2 linked regions of the Homo sapiens genome follow. The protein of the gene in region 1 interacts with the protein of each later gene in a pairwise test. Each region holds a gene or a part of one and is shown in the gene's direction. Other genes may lie near its edges. The genes, in order: PPIL3 and SLU7.

What was found.
Region 2: the proteins of PPIL3 (region 1) and SLU7 interact in binary tests that used the Homo sapiens proteins (3 or more experiments, as listed by UniProt).

Annotation. Positions count from the first base shown.
Region 1 is NC_000002.12:200,882,253-200,886,077, reverse strand, and holds part of PPIL3 (peptidyl-prolyl cis-trans isomerase-like 3), read left to right. Parts: intron 1-305; coding exon 306-380; intron 381-710; coding exon of another isoform or gene 711-816; intron 817-3,642; coding exon 3,643-3,736; intron 3,737-3,825. UniProt on the Homo sapiens protein: PPIases accelerate the folding of proteins. It catalyzes the cis-trans isomerization of proline imidic peptide bonds in oligopeptides. May be involved in pre-mRNA splicing.
Region 2 is NC_000005.10:160,405,314-160,409,138, reverse strand, and holds part of SLU7 (pre-mRNA-splicing factor SLU7), read left to right. Parts: intron 1-441; coding exon 442-489; intron 490-678; coding exon 679-810; intron 811-1,070; coding exon 1,071-1,168; intron 1,169-1,325; coding exon 1,326-1,393; intron 1,394-1,523; coding exon 1,524-1,663; intron 1,664-2,509; coding exon 2,510-2,671; intron 2,672-3,825. UniProt on the Homo sapiens protein: Required for pre-mRNA splicing as component of the spliceosome. Participates in the second catalytic step of pre-mRNA splicing, when the free hydroxyl group of exon I attacks the 3'-splice site to generate spliced mRNA and the excised lariat intron.

The DNA of each region.
Region 1 (3,825 bases):
TGATAAAAAATTCAAAGTTAAAATAATTCTTTCCATCAAAATATTTACTTCCAAATTTTTGTCATGGATACTACTTAACCCTAACATTTATATTCTGGAGTTTTTTCTCTACTGTTGGGATCAATTTTGAGAAAAAAGTACAACTTAACCTCTAAGAGCTGCTTTGTGGATGGGTCATCTCTGAAGCAGTATTTCTGTCTGTTTTTATTCAGATTATCATCTTGAATATCCACACAGGGAAATAAACAATGCATAAAGTCACCTAAATAAATTTCATTTGTTCTCACATTTTCTCTCCTTTTTAGTCTGTGACACTGCATACAGATGTAGGTGATATTAAAATTGAAGTCTTCTGTGAGAGGACACCCAAAACATGTGAGGTAAGTACTATTATTTACATATTCAACATCAGTTAATACAACAAGATAAGCACTTTGGAATTGAATAATCTAACCTAAATAACAACAACAAAACTTTCTGTAAAACCATTGTTAGGGAAAACTAGCCATCCTAACTTCTGGCCTGATTTCCACTTATTTGTCCAATGTCAAAGGTGGATCAAAGAGAACGTAGATAATTTTTCGGTAACGATAGAGTAGCCAGTATCTTTTTCTTTTGAACTAATTTTCTTCAGGAAACGTAATCATTAGGACATTATATTACTTTTTTCTTTCTTTTTTTTTATTTATTTATTATTATTTTTTTTTGAGATGGAGTCTCGCTGTGTCCCCCAGGCTGGAGTACAATGGCGCGATCTCGGCTCACTGCAACCTCCGCCTCCTGGGTTCAAGCAAGTCTTCTGCCTCAGCCTCCCGAGTAAGTGGGATTACAGGCGTGCGCCACCATGCCTGGCTAATTTTTGTATTTTTAGTAGAGACAGGGTTTCACCATGTTGGTCAGGCTGGTCTCAAACTTCTAACCTCAGGTGATCCATGCACCTCAGCCTCCCAAAGTGCTGGGATTACAAGCATGAGCCACTGCACCTGGCCTTTTTTTTTTTTTTTTTTTTCTCAAGACGGAGTCTTGCTCTGTCACCCAGGCTGGAGTGCAGTGGCATGATCTTGGCTCACTGCAACCTTCGCCTCTGGGGTTCAAACGATTCTCCTGCCTCAGCCTCCCAAGTACCTGGGATTACAGGCACCCACCACCATGCCCAGCTAATTTTTATATTTTTTTAGTAGAGACGGGGTTTCACCATGTTGACCAGGCTGGTCTCAAACTTCTGACCTCAGGTAACCCGCCTGCCTCAGCCTCCCAAAGTGTTGGGATTATAGGCATGAGCCTCCATGCCCGGCAGGATATTATATTAAAGAATTGTTGTATACTTTTTTTTTTTTTGAGACAGGGTCTTGCTCTGTCGCTCAGACTGGAGTGCAGTGGTGCAATCACGGCTCATTGCAGCCTCAACCTCCTGGGCTCAAGCAATCCTCCCACCTTGGCCTCCCAAGTAGATAGGACTACAGGCGTGTGCCACCATGCCAGGCTAATTTTTTTTAAATTTTTATGGAGACGAGATCTCACTATGTTGCCCAACTTGGTCTCGAACTCCTGGTCTCCAGCCATCGTCCCATCTCAGCTTCCTGAAGTATTGGAATTATAGGCGTGAGCCACCATGCCTGGCCTGTTCTATACATTATTTCGCCTGTTTATTTTTATTTATTTATTTATTTATTTTGAGACAGAGTTTTGCTCTTGTTGCCCAGGCTGGAGTGCAGTGGCCCAATCTTGGGTCACTGCAACCTCCGCCACCCAGGTCCAAGGGATTCTCCTGCCTCAGCCTCCCAAGTAGCTGGGACTATAGGCGCCAGCCACCATGCCCAGCTAATTTTGTATTTTTAGTAGAGATGGGGTTTCACCATGTTGATCAGGCTGGTCTCAAACTCCTGACCTCAGGTGATCCACCCGTCTTGGCTGCCCAAAGTGCTGCCCAAAGCCACTGCACCCGGCCTGTGTCACCTGTTTAAATGACAAGGATGGAAGGAAGAAGAGTCACCTGTATATATTCATTTATTCAGCAATTATTTATGGCTGGGCATGGTGGCTCACATCTATAATTCCAGCACTTTGGGAGGCTAAGGTGAGCTCAGAAGTTCTAGGCTTACCTAGGCAATATAGTGAGACCCCCATCTCTACAAAACAATACAAAAATTAGCCAGATGTTGTGGTGTGACCCTGTTGTCCCAGCTACAAGGGAGGCCAAGGTGGGAGAATTGCTTGAGCCTAGGAGGTCAAGACTGTAGTGAGCTCTGATCACACTGCTGCACTCCAGCCTAGGTGACAGAGCAAGACCCTGTCTCAAAACGAAACAAGAAACCCATTATTCGTGAAAGGCTATCTTGCCCCAGAGTCTGGAGATACAGTGATGAGCAACAGACATTCCTTACCCTCATGGAGCCAATATTTTAGTTGTAAAAATAAGCAGGGCAGGAAAATTAAGTAATTATATTTTTAAGAAATTATTTTCATTTATTTATTTTTTTTTTAAAGATAGAGATGAGGTCTTACTATGTTGCCCAGGCTGGTCTTGAACTCCTGGACTCAAGTGATCTTCCTGCCTCCCAAAGTGCTGAGATTACAGGTGTGAGCTGCTGTGCCTGGCCTAAAATTAAGTAATTCTAAAAGATGATAATGCCTTGAAAAAAATTAAGTGTTGAGATAGAGAATAATGGGAAAGGAAGAAGGTGAGGGCAGGTGTAGCCAATAAACTAATACTTAAATTAAATGCAAAGGTATGAGGGCATCTCCATGGAAAGAGGTATAGAAAGAATATTCCAGGTATTCAGATTCAGAAAAGGTTGTGAAATAAAATTTTAAAAAATTCCAAGACCAGGCACGGTGGCTCACACCTGTAATTCCAGCACTTCGGGTGGCTGAGGCAGGAGAATCATTTGAGCTCAGGAGTTCAAGACCAGCCTGGGCAACATAGGGAGACACTGTCTCTACAAAAAAAAAAAAAAAAAAAAAAGAACATTCCAGATATAGAAATCTCAGGTACAGAGTACCCCAGGTAAGAAAAGCTGCCCCTTTTGGATTAATTGTCAGAATGCTGATGGAGTTTAGGTAGTAAGCAACAAGAAAGCAGTTCTTAGTATATGTGATGAGGAGATGAGCCAGGTACTGCAGGGCTTGTTAGGCCCTGCTGAAGATTTTCTTTTTGTTTTTGGTTGTTTTTTTTTTTTTTTGAGACGGAGTCTCTGTCGCCCGGGCTGGAGTGCAGTGGTGCGATCTCGGCTCACTGCAACCTCCGCCTCCCAAGTTCACGCCATTCTCCTCCCTCAGCCTCCAGAGTAGTTGGAGGCGCCTGCCACCACACCCAGCTAATTTTTTGTATTTTTAGTAGAGATGGGGTTTCACCATAGCCAGGATGGTCTCGATCTTCTGACCTCGTGATCCACCCACCTCGGCCTCCCAAAGTGCTGGGATTACCGGCGTTAGCCACCATGCCCGGCGAAAGATTTTGTATTTTATTTCAAGAGGAGAAGGAAGCTATTGAAGTGTTGTAGGCAGGGAAATGACATCCAAAGTAATGACAACAGTCATAGTTTAAATATGCTGCTATCACGTTTTCAGTAAATATGATTGGTTTTTTGTCTTAACTGGGTTTCTGCTGCATCATTTCTCAATCATTTTTACTCCCTTCAGAATTTCTTGGCTCTTTGTGCCAGTAATTACTACAATGGCTGTATATTTCATAGGAATATCAAGGGTTTCATGGTTCAAACAGGAGATCCAACAGGTAAGTTATTCCATTAACCAAGATCTAAGGAACTGAATGTATAGTATGAAGAAGTGGGTAAAAGAAGAGGAATTAAATACGTGGAGTTT
Region 2 (3,825 bases), on another chromosome or scaffold:
TATGTCTGAAGACTAACACATTTAGAAATTAATATTTATTGGGTACTTTGGACATCTTAATCTTTCTGTTACCATTTTGTGGTTATAATCTTAATTAAAATTCTCTTGAAATTTGCTGGCTTTATAGACAGTGTAATAAAATTATTTACAATGGCACTCTTGTATTCAGAATTTTTGCGCTCATTATAACTGAGAAGTGTGAGAGTTTGTTCAGTTAGAATTAAGTTTTATTATCTTAATACTTATTTATAAGTTACATATTATATATTATATAATAAATATTTATTATATATAATATAAATATAATATATAATAAAATATATTTTATTATATAAATATATTATTTATAATAAGATAATAATACTTTATTATCTTAATAATAAAGTTAATTGGATTAAGTGGAATGAGATTATGAATGATTTTTCTTCTTTCATGATGCAGAATTCTCCAAAACACCAGTGGGGAGAAGAGGAACCAAATTCTCAGATGGTAATACATATTTGCTGTCTCTGAGTATATGTTAAATTTTTAAATTTCTGATGGCTAATAATAAATAACACTAATAATAGCTTTTAAAGAACACAAGTAAATAAGGGTTTGGTTAAAGGGAAAGGGGAAAAAAAAGAACTACATGCTGCTTTCTTTTCTTCTTACTTTTCCTTCCTCTCCCTCTTTTAGGAAAAAGATCATAATAGTGAAGATGAGGATGAAGATAAATATGCAGATGATATTGACATGCCTGGACAGAATTTTGACTCCAAGAGACGAATTACTGTCCGGAATCTCAGGATTCGAGAAGATATTGCAAAAGTAAGTCTTGTCAGCTTAACATACATATTTGAAAAATACTTGTCTTCCCAGCATAAATTTTATCGACTCTGGGTAGCATATGGATAATATAGTCAGAGTCATTCTAAGATAAGGTTTCATTCTGTTTTTTCTCTTCACCTGAACCCCAGAAATGTATACACACATTTATTTAATTGATCATGTTCAACTCCTCCAACTAGTCTGCTGAAATCTTTTTGCTGTGAGTAAACATTAATTCTTTAAATATTTTTTTCTTCTAGTATTTGAGGAATTTAGATCCAAATTCTGCCTACTATGATCCAAAAACTAGAGCAATGAGAGAGAATCCTTATGCCAATGCAGGAAAGAATCCAGATGAGTAAGTATCAAGTTAAATGTACAGATTTTAAGATGAGAGAAAGTTAATTGTTTTCTGACCTGACCATAGATGGTGTTCATTTTAATTCAGATTCAGTTTTACGAATTAATTTTCCTTAAATCAATCTCTGAAACATTTTCTTTATTTGTATTTACAGAGTGAGTTATGCTGGAGATAACTTTGTTAGGTACACAGGAGATACCATTTCAATGGCTCAGACACAGTGTAAGTGTTTCCTCTATGTCAAGCCATTTTATATCAGCTCATAAGACGTTTGGGATTGTTTAAAGCTTGTTTTCAAGAAGCATACAGTAATGCAGCTGCCAACTCACTAAGATGTTTTGAATTACTCTAGTGTTTGCATGGGAAGCCTATGACAAGGGATCTGAAGTGCATCTACAGGCAGATCCTACAAAGCTAGAGCTGTTGTATAAGTCCTTCAAAGTCAAAAAAGAAGATTTCAAAGAACAGCAGAAAGAAAGCATCCTGGAAAAGGTAATTTTGACCAAAATGCTAAAGAAGAACTTCTGTTAAAGAGAAGTTACTAGTTAATAAGCGTTAGTTTTACATTTGGAAAATAATGCAAAGAGAGCCCTCTTAATCCATGAAGAATAGTCCTTTTCTTCCTTTCTCTTAGTCAGATGGTAATTTTGTATGAGCTTTTGCAGCAAAACAAGCTACCTCAAATCTTAATAGCTTAAAATAAACATTTATTGTTTCTCACAGTTGGCCAAGTCTCCTGGTCTGGGCTTGCTCAGCTGAGGTTAGATGATGAACTAAGATGGCCTCACTCTTGTGTTTAGCAGTTAACAGGCTAATTGTCCTAAGGGGACCTCTTCTGGGACAGCTCATCTCCACCCCATGTGGTCTTTCATCCTCTAGTAGGGTAGCACAGCTTTTTAAAATGGCATTCTCAGAGTTCTAGAGAGTGGCAGCAAAAAGTGTGCTGTGGTACATAAGTGCCTTTGCTTGCATCACATTTGCCAACTTTCATTGGTCAAAGCAAATAACATGGTCAGGCCCAGATTCAAGGGACAGAGAAAGACTTCGTCTCTTGATGGGAAGAAAAGCAAAGCCCTGTGGCAAAAGGGCATGTATAGAAAGATAAGAGGAATTTATGGCCATCTTGTAACTTACTGTACTCAACAGATGAATAGCAACTGAGACATCTTCTATTTGCCTCAGAAAAAATTTGTGGCTTTTTTTTTCCTACTGTGCTTTCTATAACAAAACCCAGTAAAGAATGTTCCCTTTCTTTCTGATTAGAAATAAATGTTTTCTGGAAATTTAAATGCAAATCAGGTTGTAAAATGTATTGAATAATGTCCAATGTCCTTTTAGTATGGTGGCCAAGAACATTTGGATGCCCCTCCAGCTGAATTGCTTTTAGCCCAGACTGAAGACTATGTGGAGTACTCAAGACATGGGACAGTCATCAAAGGACAGGAGCGGGCTGTTGCCTGCTCTAAGTATGAGGAGGATGTGAAGATCCACAATCACACAGTATGTGCTAAACTGGAACAATTTTGTGTCCTTGTTGGTTTTGCTCTGTATTGCATTTTTCCACTACAACTTTATTAGCTAACCATTTGTATTCTCTATGCTTTAAAAAAAAAAAAAAATTTTAACTGTTTCATGGAATTTTTTCAAAAATAGAAAAATTTTGAAGGAATACTATGTTCATCTATATACCCATCATCTAAATTCTGAAATTTTTAACATATTGCCTTATATGCTTTGTCTAGTTGTATGTGTGCATATGCACAGTTTTACATATATATGTAAAATACACATATATACACACATATAGTTTATGTATATATTTATTTGACTGAAACATTTGGAAATTATGTATATCATGACATTTTATCCATAAACGCTGTATCACATATCTCCTTAAAATGAGGATTTTCTTCTATATAACCACATCGACATTATTGCACTTCAGAAAATTAACATTATATCACCTAATATCTAGTCATTAATCACATTTTCCAAAATATACAGAAAAATGCCTTTAACACCTATTTTTTGTTTTAGTCAGAATTCGTTTCAAATTTCTTTTGATCGTTATGCGGTTATTATGTCTCTTTTCTAGAGTGTATCTCTTCATTTTCATGACGGTGACCATTTAACAGATTAGGCCAATTAGTTTGTAAATTGTCTCATATTCTGTATTGACTGGTTCCTAGTAGTGTTATATAACTTGTTTCTCTATCCCTGTATGTTTTATAAATAGGAATTTAGGTCTAACGGCTTGATTGGATATAAGTTAAATATTTTGACAAGAATATTTAATAAGTAATGTAGTATATTCATATTGCATTGTAAACATCATAAAGCATATATTGTCCTTTGCTGTTCTCTTGAAGTAACCAAACTACAATTGTCTCTCTTAGTTGAGGGTCAAAAACCTAACTCCCTATAGGAGCCAGACCAGTGATCATACATGAGTGAAGTGAGCCAGGCAAATTGTACAAACTGGAGAACACAAGCCCTATCTAATGGGGCATCCACTGTTCAGCAACAGCTGATTATTGCCAAGTGGTTATATAGGCCCAGAATTTCCCACTCCTACGTTTTTCAAGAGAAGTCAGATACCCTAAATTTTTTAATAGGCTTTTGGGAATAGAATTTAAGAGTTTTGTAACTACAGG